2 separate regions of the Homo sapiens genome follow, and region 1 is linked to region 2. The links come from fine-mapping of genetic effects on gene expression. Tissue or cell type: whole blood. Region 2 holds a variant in brackets; the other region holds the start of a gene. All regions are shown on one strand. Distances are between the middles of the regions.

Region 1 (8,109 bases), 61 kb before region 2:
AAATCTGCTCTACCAGTGCTCTATAAATGGAACAACGATACCTAGCTGGCAGCACATCTGTTTACAACACAGCTTTCTGAATATTTTAAGTCCACTGTTGAGACCTACTGCTCAAAAAAAAAGGTGTCCTTTCAAAATATTACTGGTCATTGACAATGCACGTGGTCACCCAAGAGCTATAATGGTGCTATATGAGGAGATTAATCTTGTTTTCATGACTGCTAACACAATGTCTATTCTACAGCCCATGGATCAAGGAGTCATTTTGATTTTTAGGTGTTATTATTTAAAATATACATTTAATAAGGCTAGAGCTACCACAGACAGTGATTCTTCTGATGGAACTGGGCAAAGCACATAGAAAACCTTCTGGAAAAGATTCACCATTCTAGATGCCATTAAGAACATTTGTGATTAGGAGGAGGTCAAAATATCAACATTCACAGAAATTTGGAAGTTGATTCCAACCCTCACGGATGACTTTGAGAGGTTTGAAATTTCTGTGGAGAAAGTACCTGCAGATGTGGTGGAAATAGAAAAACAACTAGAATTAGAAGTGGAATTTGATGTGACTGAATTGCTGCAATCTCATGATAAAACTTGAATGGGTGAAGAGTTGCTTCTTATGGCTGAGCAAAGAAAGTGGTTGTTTGAAAAGGAATCTATTCATGGTGAAGACTCTGTAAATATTGTTGAAATGACAACAAAGGATGTGGAATAGTGCATAAACTTAGTTGACCAAGCAGAGACAAGGTTTGAGAGAATTGACTCCAATTTTGAAAGAAGTTCTACTATGGGTAAAATGCTATCAAACAGCATTGCATGATATGGAGAAATCCTTTGTGAAAGGGAGTCAATCAATGCAGCAAACTTCATTGTTGTCTTATTTTAAGAAATTGCCATAGCCATTCCCAACATTCAGAAACTACCATTCTGATCAGTCAGCAACCTGACCCTGATCAGTCAGCACCTATCAACATTGAGGCAAGACCTTCCACAAGCAAAATGACTGTGAATCTAGTGGGCATGGTGATGTGGGCCTGTAGTCCCAGCTCCTCAGGAGGCTGAAGCAGGAGGACTGCTTGACCCCGGGAGTTTGAGGCTGTAGTGTAGTATGATCACATCTGTGAATAAGCCACTGTACTCAATCCTGGAGAACACAGCAAGACTCCATCTCTTAAAAAAAAAGAAATAAAAATAAAAATAAATTTAAAACTTGCAACTTGCAAAGGCTTAGATGATCATTAGCAACTTTTTGGCAACAAAGCACTTTTTAAGGTATGTGCATTGCTTTTGCAGACATAATATTATTGCACACTTAATAGACCACAGTATAGTGTAAACATAACTTGCATATGTTTTGGGAAACCAAAAAATTTGTGTGATTCACTTTACTGCGATATTTACTTTATGTGGTGGTCTGGAACAGAACCCAAAATATCTCTGAAGTATGTGTGTATTATTAACTCAGTAAAGTAATTTTAAGTGTCTTGTGCTGGCACCCCTCTAAGCATTTTTATAAACCTTACGCCAGTTCCATGTAGTAGGTTCTACTTTCACAGATAAGGAGACTGAGGCATAACAGAAGTTAATCAATTTGCCCAAAGTTGCACAACTAGAAAGTTGAGATGTTTGACTTTGCATCCAGGCAAAGTCTCATGCTTAATCCCTGTACTATATAATCTCTGTGGCCTCTTTGAGCTCTGAATCCTATGGCTCTTCCATGAACTTTGATGTTTTATATTCAGCAATATGTAAAAAGACTGTTCTAACATCAAGGACTAAGGATGCTGTTCCTCGTTTCTTTTTTGCCTTATTACAGGACAGCATTCTTTTTCATCACTTACATTTCTGCCTTTGAATCACGGATCCTTCATCTCCCAAGGCCTTAGAGTTAGAAGACAGATTTCTACTTCTTTTCAATTAAAAAAAAAAGAAAAAAATTTATTCCGTTTTTCTTCAGTGTCCTGGGTCATTTAATAAAGTGAATGAAAAATTTTCTCATTTATAATTTTATTAACAATAAATTATTCCTATTGCCAGGGTTCACCTGAAATCCCCAAATCAACTAGTTAAAATAGAGGCACATCTGAGAACCTCTAGATTAATAGAAGAAAGATAAAGAGTACAGAGACATAAGTATCTTACTCTTTTGTAAAAATTGAGGCGTATATATAGCTTGCTCTTTCATCTGGATTATGCTATATGGTTTGTCCTCAACAAGAAAAGTATACTGTGGGCCAGGCCTGGCCGCTCATTCCTGTAATCCCAGCACTTTGGGAGGCCTAGGCGGGAGGATTGCATAACACCAGGAGTTCGAGACAAGCCTGGGCAACATAGTGTGACCTCTTCACCACCACCACCACCACCACCACCACCACCAAAAAAATTTAAAAATTAAAACTTAGCCCAGAGTGGTGTTGCACGCCTGTAGTTTCAGCTACTTGGGAGGCTGAGATGGGAGGATTGCTTGAGCCCAGGAGTGCTGAGGCTTCAGTGAGCTATGATTAGCCACTGCACCGCACCCCCAGCCTGGGCGACAGGGCCGAGACCCTGCCTCCAAAAAAAAAAAAAAAAGCCTCAATGGTGTAAATTATTTTACATAAAATGTCTCTGTATAGTCCTATATAGACCGAGGAGGAAAACCAATGAGATATAAAGTTTTCATAATGTTAAATAATGTACAATTTCAAATAATCCTGTATATTACTATACAGTAGAAAGAATATGGTTACAAAAAACATTTCCATGAGGGCTGTGATTGAGTTCCGTGTTCCCGTAAAACACTTAGAGAAGCCTAACTGAAGATTTCTAGAACCGACTGACAACTGATTTCAGTTGTAAACACACAGTAAGCCAGCCTAGTTAGGCAGACATTCATTGCACGCCAAGGAGACACCAACGGGACTGTGTGCTCTTGCGTTATGAATCCCACGAAAATAAATCTTGTGCTCCGTGTAACATGACTTTAACTTGCAGTAATATCCTTTCATCATTTAATATTTATTGAGCGCCTACCATACACCAGGCTCAGATACTGCACTGAACACCGACCCTGTCCCATGAAGCCTTACACTGATGGGAGACACCTTTGCATGTTCCACAACCCAATTATCAAAAAAAAAAAAAAAAAAAAGATAATCACGTAACCGAAACCTGGAAATCTGCCTTGGGCACACAAAAGAGCAGGCGCGACCTCGGACCAGCTCCGAGGCAAAATTCACTCAGCGCGGGACAGCGACAGGGAATCCGGCCGCACCTGTGCCTGCAGTCTCATTGCTCGGAACGGCGCGCCACTGTGACGTGTCAGGCCCCGCCCCTGACTCTCCTCATAGTGCCCCCGCCTCCTTGCGCGAAGTGCGCAGGCTCCTGGGCAGGGCTCGGGTTCTGCCCGGGGACGCAGCCCAGTTGGTAGCGTCGCTCCCTGAGCGTTTCTAAGGGGGCCGCCCGGCCTTGTCTTTCGGCAGTGGCCGAGCCACCGCCGCCTGCCGCGCGTTCCAGAGCTGGGCGCTGCAGCTGCACTGCCGATCGCCGTGTTTGGTCGATAGAATCCCCAGTGTGCCCAGAGAGTGCGACCCCTCGCCCGGCCCGGCGAGCCCCGGGCGTGAACCGAGCTGAGGGAGGATGGCAGCCTCTGGGGTGGAGAAGAGCAGCAAGAAGAAGACCGAGAAGAAACTTGCTGCTCGGGAAGAAGCTAAATTGTTGGCGGGTTTCATGGGCGTCATGAATAACATGCGGAAACAGGTACCGCCTCTGTGGGAGTGACGGACGACGGTGGGAGGTGGTCCGGGGCTCGGGCCCCTGGTTCCCGGGGTGGAACCCCGCGCCCTGTGGATCGCGCCCCTCTTTCTCTGTCCTCGCCCCTCCTTCCGTTTTCGCAGGCGAGCGATTCCGCAGTTGGTAGAGGGGCGCGTAAAACAATTCTCGAGCAAAAGTGCTTCTCGTCTGCCGAGGATGTAGCTCCCAAGTCAGACTCCTGGGGGACTCCTCAGGCTGGCTTTCGCCGTCGGGTATCGGTTGTGTAACAGCTCTGCCCTAGTTATCTCTTTGTGGGGCGAGGATCCTTCCATTGGCGAGCCGTTTTAAGGTGCCGTGAGATCTTGTGTGAAGAAACCCGTTGGCATAGCCCAAACCGAAGCCCCCAAAGGGAGGAGAGTTGCTGGCCTGACATCAGCTGCTCTTAAATAAGGATCCCCGCCCCCTCCTGTGTTCCCCGGTGGAGCTAGTTGAAGAGGAGTCCTCCTGTTCGTGCTAATTTAGAGCAGAAGCAGCCATCGATAAATACCATGCCATCTTCTAAGGGCACTGTGCGCCTCTGTTATTAAGAGGAGCTCTTTGTTCTGTCCTTGGTGTGTGGTGCATTCGTGAAATTCTGCAGCACATCGGCGAAAGGTGGGTTATGAAAAGAACGGATTTTAACGCTGGCGAAGGTGAAACAAAGAGGCTTTTTTTTTTTTTAATTCCATAACATCTACACCGATAAGCATAGAAAGTCACTTTTTCCTTTCTGTAAGCTTTATTTATAGATAATACACATCTAAGTAGATTTGTGGGAATGTTTGGGTTTTGTTGACTGGGATCCTGTTTCAAGGGGACAAAGCAGGATGTGAGTTATGTGTAACTGCAAAACCTAGTTTGCTTTGTCTGGTGGTTCTGCTGGGAATATGGGCAACAGTAGAGGAATTTAAGATTTTTATGAAGATATTAACTTCTGGTTTCTATAAGCAAACGCTGACTGCTGGGATTTTGTCTTTGTTCACCAGCTCCTGCTACAGTGCACCAGTGCAGTCTGTGGGAATGCTTTTAAATCTTTCCTGGCCTGGCCTTTGTGCTGAAGTACTGTGAATGCCTGAATTCGTTAATTTATGTAACTGACTTTCATGTATCTATTTTCAAATTCATGTTCCTTTCATGTAAACCTTTTTGTATCTACAATACCACAGACTTCAAATTGCTGGTGCATTTAGCTATTGCCTGCCTGTAATGGTAGTTGAACATAGTTAACCAGGGCTTAAACTCGTTGAAGACTCATTAGGTTCCCTCCCACTCCCTCGAATATATGTTTTCATTCGTGGATCATAGCATTGTAAAGCATTGCCTTAATCCCTAAATAGGGTGAAACTGGATTGCAGCAGCAAATATTTACTTGAGGAGCAGAGGATTATCTGAGACTGTCCGTTTAGCTCTTTGGATTTAAAAAGTGACTCACATTTCTTAGCTTTGGAGTATATTAACATCACTTATTTACCGTTACAATAGAAGTACAATTACTGAAAAATCAGGGTTCTGTTACTGAGTAGGAAGGAAAAAATGGTTACCTGGTGAACAACCAGGGGTCCCCTCCACAATGATTAACTGACCTTAATCTGCCAGGTTCTCCTGTTGTCAGTGGTTTGGCATGTGATTCAAACAGTTCTCCAATAGCACTTTTATCAACTTCATGGAATCATGCATCTTTTGCAAGATGTGCAGTTTCACTTCGCAATTGATTTACATTATGGTTATATTGTATTGTCCTGTTTAACATCATAACACAGGAAACAATTGACCGAGAATGACTGACAAGGGCAGTTGATGGGAATTGGCAGAAACAGTGGCTGGTCTGAGCCAGAGTAGGAATGTTTGAGTGAGGACCAACTTTATAAGTGCTCTTGTTCTTTAGTAAATATTTTTGTGTTATGACTACTTTTACATCCCTTTACAATCTCATTGCTTTAAGGATCAGGATAATGAGTGCCTAGATGACAAGGACCCCTCTGTAAACATCCAGAAACATTCCTTCAAGAATTTGAGAACATTGTGAGATTAGCATACCTCAGTTCCAATCCTGCTCTCTCATTATTTCATTTTGTTATTTTAGATAACATGATTTGGGTCATTCCATCTCTCTGTAGTATAGTGGCCGATTCTATACATAGAGGCAAAAGGGGATTCTGCAGAGCCAGCAGCCTCGGCTTCTTCTAAAGCCTTTTCCTACATTGTTTTTGTCATTTCTAGCCTTTTGTTTCTAAGTAAACTCTCCAGTGAAGTATGGGATACATATAAGAGGGCACAAATCATAAATGTATAGCTCAATTATTACAAAGTGCACATCCCACCAACAAGACGAGAACATGACCAGTACACCAGAGGTCCCCCCTTATGCCCTTCTCAGTCACCAACCCCACAGTAGTAACAACTATTCTAACTCTGTAACCATCGAAGTTAGAGCAGAAGCAACCATTGATAAATACCATGCCATGCCATCTTCTAAGGGCACTATGCACCCCTGTTATTAAGAGGAGCTCTTTGTTCTGTCTTTGGTGTGTGGTGCATTCATGAAAGTCTGCAGCACATCGGCAAAAAGTGGGTTTTTCCTGTGTTTGAACTTATATAAATGTAATCATATGGCATAAACTCTTGTGTTTTGTTTTCTTAAAGCCAACATTGTTTGTGAGATTCATCTGTGCTGTGTGTAGCGCTACTTCATCCTTGTGGTATATAGTATCCCATTGAATGAATATAGCACAATTTATCCATTCTATCATTATGAACATTTGGGTTATTTCTAGTTTGGAACTATTAAGACTAGTACTACTTTGAACATTTTTGTACACTTTGTACATGCCTTTTGGTATGCATATGTATGTATTAATATTTGTGTTGGGAAATACCAAACAGGAATTTTTGAGTCATAAGCTATACCACCTTCAGCTTTAAAAGATATCGTCGTGTAGTTTTCCAAAGTGATTGTACCATGTTACGCTTCTGCCAGTTGTGTGTGAGAGAGGTTTTTGCTCCGCATCCCTGCCATCACTTGATGTTGTCAGTCTTATCACTTTAGCCATTCTAACTGGGTGTATAGGAGCATCTTATTTAATTGGATTGAGTACCTTTTCATTTATTTCTTTAACTTTTTGCTTAGATTAATGTTATTACCTGATATGTAAAATAGAGGCTTTACAAGGCAGGTCTGGGTCACAGTCACTATTGCACATGCACATTGCTGTTGCCATACTCTTCTTTTGTGTTAATGAAGTCCAGGAGTCTCTTAACATTGGAGGAAGATGTTTTAAGACCTTCCTGAGTACCACCATAGTTTATAGTTTCTCCACATTAAATGAATTAAAGCATAACTGGAACTTGAAAGCTTATGTTAAAGTCCTTATTGAGAGTTATGTGAGAGAACTACAAAGCTGATTTCACAATTAGATACTGGGCAGTTAACTGGGCTCACCTTCCGGCTAAAATGACTTTGCTTCTGTATTCTCATCTGTCTGACTGTAAATTACTACATGTCATTATCTTTAGGTTCTCTTGTGAATAATCTAAACCTTCAGTGTTAAACCCTTGATATTAATAAGACTTCTTGAGCACTTATAACTGTTCCAGCCACTCTGCAGAGTGTTTTACATGCTTTGTCTCATTTAATTCTCTTAACTTTCATTGACAATTCCAGTCATCCAGACCTTCTTATTCTTTTTCCTGTACTTTACTGTTTTCTGTTTTCTTTTTCTGTCTGTCCAGCTTAGAAGCTATTGTCACTCCACTGTCTCTCCAGTGTCCCAGTTTTCTTGACCCTCTGTCCCTTTTTCATGTCCATCTGGCAAACTTGAGTATTGATGACTGATTACCTTCTTTGTGCAAGGCTCCAAGCACAGCTGGAAAATATCTCACTGGGCAACTTCTGCCAAGTAAGTGCTTGGCCACTAATTTCCACTAGACTATCAGTGCCCGTGAGCAATCTTTTTGTTTTACTATTTTCCTCCAATCTGAGTCCTTTCTCTAGATCCTCACTTTCAGCAGATCACCTTCTTTTGACACCATAGATAAATAGAAGTCATTAGTCTAGAACTGTCTACCTTTTCACTTTCTACCACCAGATCTATAAACCTATTTTGACACTTTCCCTTTTCTCTTCTTATCCTGCTACAATGGAGATGCTGCTGCTTTTTCTAAGGCCAGTACTTCTACCTAGGCTTTGGCTTCCTGGATGCTGGGCTTCTCAGAAGTATTATACTGTTGGTTATTCCATCTTTGTTGAGCATCTTTAACTTTTCTTCTTTGCTGGATTCTTGCTATTAGCACTTAAGCTTGTTTTAACCTCTCCAGCTTTTGAACCAAACAACC
Region 2 (8,109 bases):
TGAGAGATATATCAAAATTTAAGAAATCCTTCTACCCATATCTTTTCCAGGCTTTCCAATTTTCCGCATTTCACATCTCAGCACCTAAGTATAAGAACTTGCATGGAATAGATACTCAGTAAAACTTAAGTGAATTAAATCATATTTTTAGGGTAACAGCTCCCTGACCCTGCCCACACACATATACCGTCCCATCTGTGACTCTACTGTTATTTGTCCATCTTCTTGCTAACATGAGAACTGCATATTCCTCTAGATTTCCCTGTAGATTTCCCTATTGCAGGGAGCAATAAATAGCACTGCCTTCACCTGCAAGCCCAGGTTGGAACTAGTTTCATCACTAGGGTAATGCCCAACAGTCATAGCCACTGAGCTGACAAGACTGACTTCCCATCTATTCTTCCCCACCCCACCCCCCGCCAACTACATACAGTATCTAGGTACTATAATCAGCAAAAAAAAAAAAAAATTCCCATATAGCTCTCAAGTAATAAATGTCAAATAAATTAGGGGTAAGAGTGACAAGATTTGAGATTCACTGAGTTAATGCAGTTAATGAAATTGTAATTCTCTGCTACATAAACCTGATTAGATAGGTATTATGAGTAGATATGAAGAACATTTAAGAGAATGATTTAGTTTATCTTTGAGGGATTGTTCCCTGTACAATATGATCATTATTTTATCTCTTTATTTCATTCTGTGGTATACAGTTTCTCTAAGAGAACAAGTGAAAATATTTTCCCCCAGTTTTTCAAGTGTTTATTGAGTGGAATTGAAGTTTCACGAACATGTTATGTTTATCACATTGTTTTGTGTGCCCACCACTGAGTAACCTACGGGGATATTAATTAGAGAATAACATCCTAAGCTATTAAGGCTCTATTTTCCTGGTCACCTAAAAAGCAAAATGTTCATCTTTGTCAGGAGTCAAAGTATTCTACATTAGGGGCTCTTCCTTTCCTAAGAGACCATTCCTGATGTTCTGTGATACTTTAATCCAATGAATGCCTGAAACACTGGATACGATCATAGGTTATCAGTCAGATTTTCTCGAAGGAAACTCAATAATCACACATAGTGCTTTCCTTGGTGAGATTGGGAATGGTATGAATTCCTATCTGACCCTGATTATTTTCAGAAAATAGCAGGAACGCTGTAGCTTCCTATCTCAAAAAAAGAGAGGGTCCAAGATACTATAACTTTAGGGGCATCCCCCCATGCACATACATGGAAGGGCGGCACAAGCATTCTTCGATGCTATCAAACATAGTGAAGAAACAGATGCTGTGAACAGCCCTTACTGTCAAGTACTGATAGGTGTGTATTTCTAATCATTGGGGTGAAAAGTGAGTATCCAGAGTACTTAGAAGAGATTACTCAAGTATTTCCTTATAAACATCAACAGTTTTAAAGTCCAGCTGACTACATTGGCTCAACTCAATATAGAAAATTAATAAAGAAGTCCACAAAATACCTTCTGGCTTTAGACTATCAGTAGGATAATGGCAATTTGAGCTTCATATTATCCATTGATTACTTATATCACACTATATATCTGGCAGGGAAGGGATGGAGACCTTTACATTTGAAAAAGCTTTTTTAAAAAATAAAACAACTTATTTTAGAATCTTCTTGTATTGTCTTCAATAACAGAAGGAATAGAAGACAGGGTGGTGATGGTATATCCAAATATATTTAAGTTTATTTTAGAGCCAGAAAGGACCCAAAGCAGTCATGTGCCTGCCTTTTGCCCTCCGCCCCATCTAATCAACATTCTGCAGAAACCACACAAGATTAAATTGGTAATAGTCTCAAGCCAAACATTTGTATGTGTAGTCTAATAAATTAACATATTCTTATATGTTTTTTGACTGTATCTTTGCATTGTCCTTTTCAGTTATATTTTTTTCCTTACTGAAAGCTTCCCATCCTTTTCTGCTACAGGATTATAGCTGGACAGACATCCGCTGCCCCTTTGAAAAACGAAGAGATGCAGCATGCGTGTTTTGGGACAATGTAGTATACATTTTGGGAGGCTCTCAGCTTTTCCCAATAAAGCGAATGGACTGCTATAATGTAGTGAAGGATAGCTGGTATTCGAAACTGGGTCCTCCGACACCTCGAGACAGCCTTGCTGCATGTGCTGCAGAAGGCAAAATTTATACATCTGGAGGTTCAGAAGTAGGTAAGGACTTCTTAAGTATTTTGGTTTGGGGCATATGCTTTAAAGCCAAGTATCTTGGCTTTCATATTTAAATAAACAGCTGGTATTATTTGTCCAGATACTTTCTTGGTAATTTAAATATGTGTTTGTCACATTTTAGAGCTCATCTCCCTGAAGGTTTATGTCGTTGCTTTACAAACCATTAAATTACAGAACTTTAGCTTCCTAGATTAATGGCCCATTTTTTTTATCATAATGAAGCATTAGTTGACATTATCTGAATTATAGTTCTAAATTATTTGGGCTGCATAATATTATTTGTTTTAAAGATTTCAGAGTTCAACTTATAGACTCTTTAAGAACTCGTTACTATATTCAGGCTTTTAAAATTTGTATTATATTTGCTTTCTTTTTATTAGAAAAAAGAATGCTCTTTTTCATTTGTTTTATTCTTTAAGTTTTTAATGACTGTAGTGGTATTTATGCTTATTGAGCAGAATGGGATGTGGGTGTGGATATAAAAACCTTATTGGATAGTGTGTTAGTGTCCAGTAGTGCTCTTTTTCTAAATGAATAATTTTTCTAAATGAATAGGTGCAGGCTAGATACATAATAGCTTTTGTATGCTTTCATTTTCAAGTAATTTCTTTAGCTTAAATAATGGGCTAATAAAGAAAACTAGGGAGACCGTAAATGGTTATACTTTTGGTCTGCATACTTATGTTTTTACCCTCAACTATATGTCAAATGAATACAAGAAAAATCACTATTTCCTAAATGTAACCATTTCCTCTCTTTAAAAGCATTCTTCACAGACTGTTATAATGTAGAATATTTCAAATACAATAAATCCTAAAGATGATAGACGGTAACTGTTCTGTGGTACTGCAGATAACTTCATTTCTTCAGCCTTTGCTAAGTGTGTTTTTAGCTTAAGTAGTAGTTTTTTTTTAATCTACTATATACTATATATTTTCCTATAGTGTCCACCCACTGAACCTACCAAATCAGGAATGTTTAAAAAGTTAAAAATAAGTTATTTTTGGTCATGACCATTGCTTCTTCTAGTTGTTATTTTCTGATCTTTACTTTTCACAGACCTTAGTTGCAACGCAGAATTATAAAGGTGTTGTCGTTTTTAAATCATTTGATATTAGCCCAGAATGGTGGGAGATGAGAAATAGTTTGGTAACTTCTAAAATTTTTTGTCCTTGGGAAGGAAAAAAAAAAGCACTTAAACTTTAATAGTATCATTTCTAAAATTTTTTATTGAACTCCTACAGTGTGTAGAAGTTTCAAAACATGATGAATGTATGTTTTGCCTTTAAATTGTGTAATCAAAATACATCAGAAATATACATCAATATTTTGAGAATATACTCAAGCAGGGACCAGTGTGATTTCAGGATATACCACACTAACTGAGAATAGTTAGGAAATATAATTTTGTTAATGGTGCTGTAGCTATTCCAGAATATTAAATAAGAATATGATCAGATAGTAGTTTTCATATTTTAAGGTATGGGTCTACCATCTGTAAGGAACTATTATGCTTTTCCACTTTATATAAACATTTGAAGTATGGATAATTCCCGTCATGCATAATGGGGCTTGAAGACATATATAAGGCTTCTTATTTAATTTTTCTTTTGAAATCAAATTTATTTTTCTAAAGTTTAATTACCAATAAATAAGTATTTCCAACAGATCCTTTTAAGGATGTTTTCCAGGGTCTATACAAACAGGATTATTAGCGTTTTCTTAAACTATTCCTACACTTTGTTGTTGTTGATTGAGTATGAAAATGGCCGTATGACCCTAAATTCTTCCTTCCTTAACTAATAAGATCTACAGTCAGTTCTTTCCAAACCCCCGCACACACTAAAGTTAAGCATGATGGGGCCTTTTTCTTTTACAGGAAACTCAGCTCTGTATTTATTTGAGTGCTATGATACGAGAACTGAAAGCTGGCACACAAAGCCCAGCATGCTGACCCAGCGCTGCAGCCATGGGATGGTGGAAGCCAATGGCCTAATCTATGTTTGTGGTGGAAGTTTAGGAAACAATGTTTCTGGGAGAGTGCTTAATTCCTGTGAAGTTTATGATCCTGCCACAGAAACGTATGTATCTATTTAAAATTTATTTTACAGTTAACTGTATTCTATAAGCTCTGTAGGAGATGTCAAAAGACCAGAGGAACCCAACAGAAGAATTTTGTCCTTGAGTGAAGAGTGTATATAAACTTTTGAGTGTGCTAGGGTCAGTGGCATATTTATGACCTGGACCTTTCCCTTACACCAGAAATGGCTTGAACTTACACCCCATGGGAACCTCTTTCTTTCTGGTTCTGCGTGCAATAAATGCCTATGAATGAGACACATCTGATTGATTCGTCAACTCATAAAATGTTTTTGTTTGAGCGGTCAGGAAATGTAGAGGAGGAGGGGGGAGTTTATGACCAGCAATAAATTTATCCTTAAGTAGAAATATTAGATATTGGCTCATG[G/A]CATTAATAAATCATGCCTCCCTAGTTCTTTTTAGGTGTAAACTTCCTAAGTACATTTAGATTCATGTTTATTAAATAAAATTATTCTTAAATCAACTGCTTTTAAAAAGGCAAAGTGTGTCAAAAAGGTAAAATGCTAAAGAAATAACTGGTTAGCCAGTTTTTCTGACCTTGTAGTTAATGATGGAACACATTCAATGTAGCCAAAGGAAATGTGCTAATCATTGAATAATGGAGAGGGCATGAGGGCACGGGTTGTGAGTAGTGACATTAAAGCTGATGAGGACATAAAACAGATGATACCCTAGTCGTACCTTTTATGGAAACATCCAAAGAGCTTTGATAAGAAAAGTCACTTGATCATATGGCTGGATTGCCCATCGTTCTTCCCTTACTAGAACAAGTTACTGGGTGAATACGTTCACTAAAATGCTATGCCAGAGTTGCATCAAAACTCTCGTGCTTAAAGTTTTATATTTAGGAAATATTGCCAAACTACAAAACATGGAAGTCTTCAACTCCAGCTACTGCTTTTTTTAAAATTAAGAAATAAGATGCCAGGCATGGTGGCTCATGCCTATAATTCCAGCACTTTGGGAGGCTGAGGCAGGCAGATCACTTGAGGTCAGGAGTATGAGATCAGCCTGGCCAACATGGCAAAATCCCGTCTCTACTAAAAATACAAAAACTAGCTGGGTGTTGTGGCGCGTGCCTGTAATCCACTACTGGGGAGGCTGAAGCAGGAAAATTGCTTGAACCTGGGAGGCGGAGGTTGCAGTGAGCCAAGATTGTGCCACAGCACTCCGGCCTGGGTGACAGAGCAAGACTCCATCTCAAAAAAAAATAAAAAATAAAAAAATAAGAGCTTAATTATAAAATATGATTAATTATGTGCATTTATCTATGATTCCCACATATTTTTAAAAGATTTAAGGAAGCATAATCAATAACTTCTTTCCAGTGCAAATAATAGAAAAGCAAGTTGTCTTGAAATTTGTCTTTTGCTAAAGATGTTTACCAACTTTGCTCCCTTTTATGTGAACCTCTACCTTACTTCCCATAAACCCTAGGCTCAAAAAGTGTTACAGCATACTAGTTGGAAAACTGATTCATTCTGCTAATTATTTTTTATTTCTAAAAAATCTCTTAAAAGAGAAGCCATAACCATAAAAACTCTAGGTTTCTAAATTTTTACATCTTTATTCAGGCACTATCAATGTAAATTAATATTGATTTTTTACTTACTTTTTTGTTCAAAGTAAAAATATAAAGGAGTTCTGCAGCTTCTGTATTTTTTAAAACTAGGTGAATATTCAGTTTCAGGAATATTTAAAAACTTACAAGACCTAGCATTTCTTTCATTTTATATATATTGAGCTTAAATTTGAATTCTCTATGTTCCCTTCAATGCCCTTAAATTTTCACAAATGAAAAGCTAGTGTGAATATAATTATCCAACTCTCAAAATAAATGTTATATTATTTCCTTTTAAAAATGTTACCTAGTCCAGGTGTGGTGGTTCATACCTGTAATCCCAGCACTTTGGGAGGCCGAGGCTGGTGGATCGTCTAAGGTCAGGAGTTCGAGACCAGCCTGACCAACATGGTGAAACTCTGTCTCGTCTAAAAATACCAAAAAAAATTAGCCGGGCGTGGTGGCGCGTGCCTGTAATCCCAGCTATTCAGGAGGCTGAGGCAGGAGAATCATTTGAACCCGGGAGGTGGAGGTTGTAGTGAGCTGAGATCGTGCCATTGCACTGCAGCCAGGGCAACAAGAGCGAAACTCTGTCTCAAAAACAAAAACAAAAATAAAAACAAAAAGTTATCTAGCCAGCCAAGTTTTTTTTAATAAGAATTTCTTCCCAATTTTGACATTTTAAGTGTTTGATAATTAGAATGTGTTTAATTGGAAGCTGAAAAACTAAGCCTATGGACCATAGAAACACAAATAACACATGTTGTCACTCATGTGGGAGCTAAAAATGTTGATCTCATGGAGGTAGAGAGTAGAATGATGGTTATCAGAGGTTGGTTAACAAGTACAGAAATACAGTTAGATAGGATAAGTTCTAATATTCAGTAGTACAGTAGGGAGACTATAGTTAACAATAATTTATTGTATATTTCAAAATAGCTAGAGAAGAATTGGAATGTTCCCAACACAAAGAAAAGATATTCCTCAGCAGCAACATGGGAGGCCTGGGTTCCTTCCCTAGCCCAAAAAGAAACAAAAGGAAAGATAAATGTTTCAGGTGCTGGATATCCCAGTTACTCTGACTTGATCATTACACATTGTATACATGTGTCAAAATATCACAGGTACCATAAAAATATGTACATGTATTATGTATCACATTTTTAAAATCAGTTTTAAAAAAGATGGAGAGGAGCAGAAGCTCATAATAAAGTAACTGAAGAAAGAAAGAAATTATGTCTATGGAAACAATGTGACACAGTTTGAGCGGTCAGAATTTTAAGAAATGACTTTTTTTTTTTTTTTTTGTGAGACGGAGTCTCACTCTGTCACCATGCTGGAATGCAGTGGCACGATCTCAGCTCACTGCAACTTCTGCCTCCCAGGTTCAAGCGATTCTCCTGCCTCAGCCTCCTGAGTAGCTGGGATTACAGGCGCACGCCACCACACGGGCTAATTTTTGTATTTTCAGTAGAGACGGGGTTTCACCATGTTGGCCAGGATGGCCTCCATCTCTTGACCTTGTGATCTGCCCACCTTGGCCTCCCAAAGTGCTGGGATTACAGGCGAAAAAACGCTTCTAAACATTAAACTTCAGATTGCAGATAGCGGGGACCTAGTATGTACTCTGCATGTGAATTATAGGAGGAAGGGGAATTTGTGAAAGTTTTTTCTAAACCTTCAGGAGATTTAGATATACATAAAGACATGCTGTCTTTTTATATCATTAACATTATATTTGGAGAAGAAAGTGGTATGTAAATGGAATTTTTCCAAGTCAAATACTGTGTTTTAATGCATGATGATAGCTGAGTCTATAAATCTCACTACGTGCAGGGCAGTGAAGACCTAGTTTTTACTGCTGTCCCACTTCCGAGCTGTATGCCGGTCACTTCACCTGGATGAGCGTGTGTGTTTTTCCTAAAAACAGGAGCCATGCTGTCCACCTCACCTTAACAGAGAACTTTGAAAATGAGAGTGGTGACTGTCAAACCATTTTTAAAACAATACATAAATGTAAGACAAAAGAATTGTTAATACTTCAGAGTTAATCATTGTGCCTTAATTATGTTTTATAAAGTTGAATTCATCAAATTGTTTTTTGTTTTTTGAGACGGCGTCTGCCTCTGTCGCCCAGGCTGCAGTGCAGTGGCGTGATCTCAGCTCACTGCAAGCTCCGCCTCCTGGGTTCACGCCATTCTCCTGCCTCAGCCTCCTGAGTAGCTGGGACTACAGGCGCCTG

What was found. PIP is the estimated chance that this variant, and not a neighbour inherited with it, causes the effect.
Region 1: it holds the start of KLHL7-DT, and the variant in region 2 is fine-mapped to the expression of KLHL7-DT in whole blood (TOPMed, PIP 0.91).

What each region holds. Positions count from the first base shown.
Region 1 is chr7:23,102,403-23,110,511 of GRCh38, forward strand. It overlaps KLHL7-DT (KLHL7 divergent transcript), which reads right to left and starts at 3,301. Exons shown (of 3, transcript NR_046220.1): 1 at 3,157-3,301; 2 at 1,848-1,915; 3 at 1-1,176. It overlaps KLHL7 (kelch like family member 7), which reads left to right and starts at 3,383. Exons shown (of 11, transcript NM_001031710.3): 1 at 3,383-3,744. The coding sequence starts at 3,625. RefSeq lists enhancers at 2,571-3,557, 3,180-3,369, 3,490-3,769, 3,558-4,544, 4,250-4,329.
Region 2 is chr7:23,163,751-23,171,859 of GRCh38, forward strand. KLHL7 (kelch like family member 7) reads left to right here. Exons shown (of 11, transcript NM_001031710.3): 8 at 1,948-2,188; 9 at 4,086-4,287. Among named protein-coding and RNA genes, the nearest start is that of NUP42, 14 kb to the right of the region's middle. The variant G/A (reference allele first, on the strand shown) is at 4,674.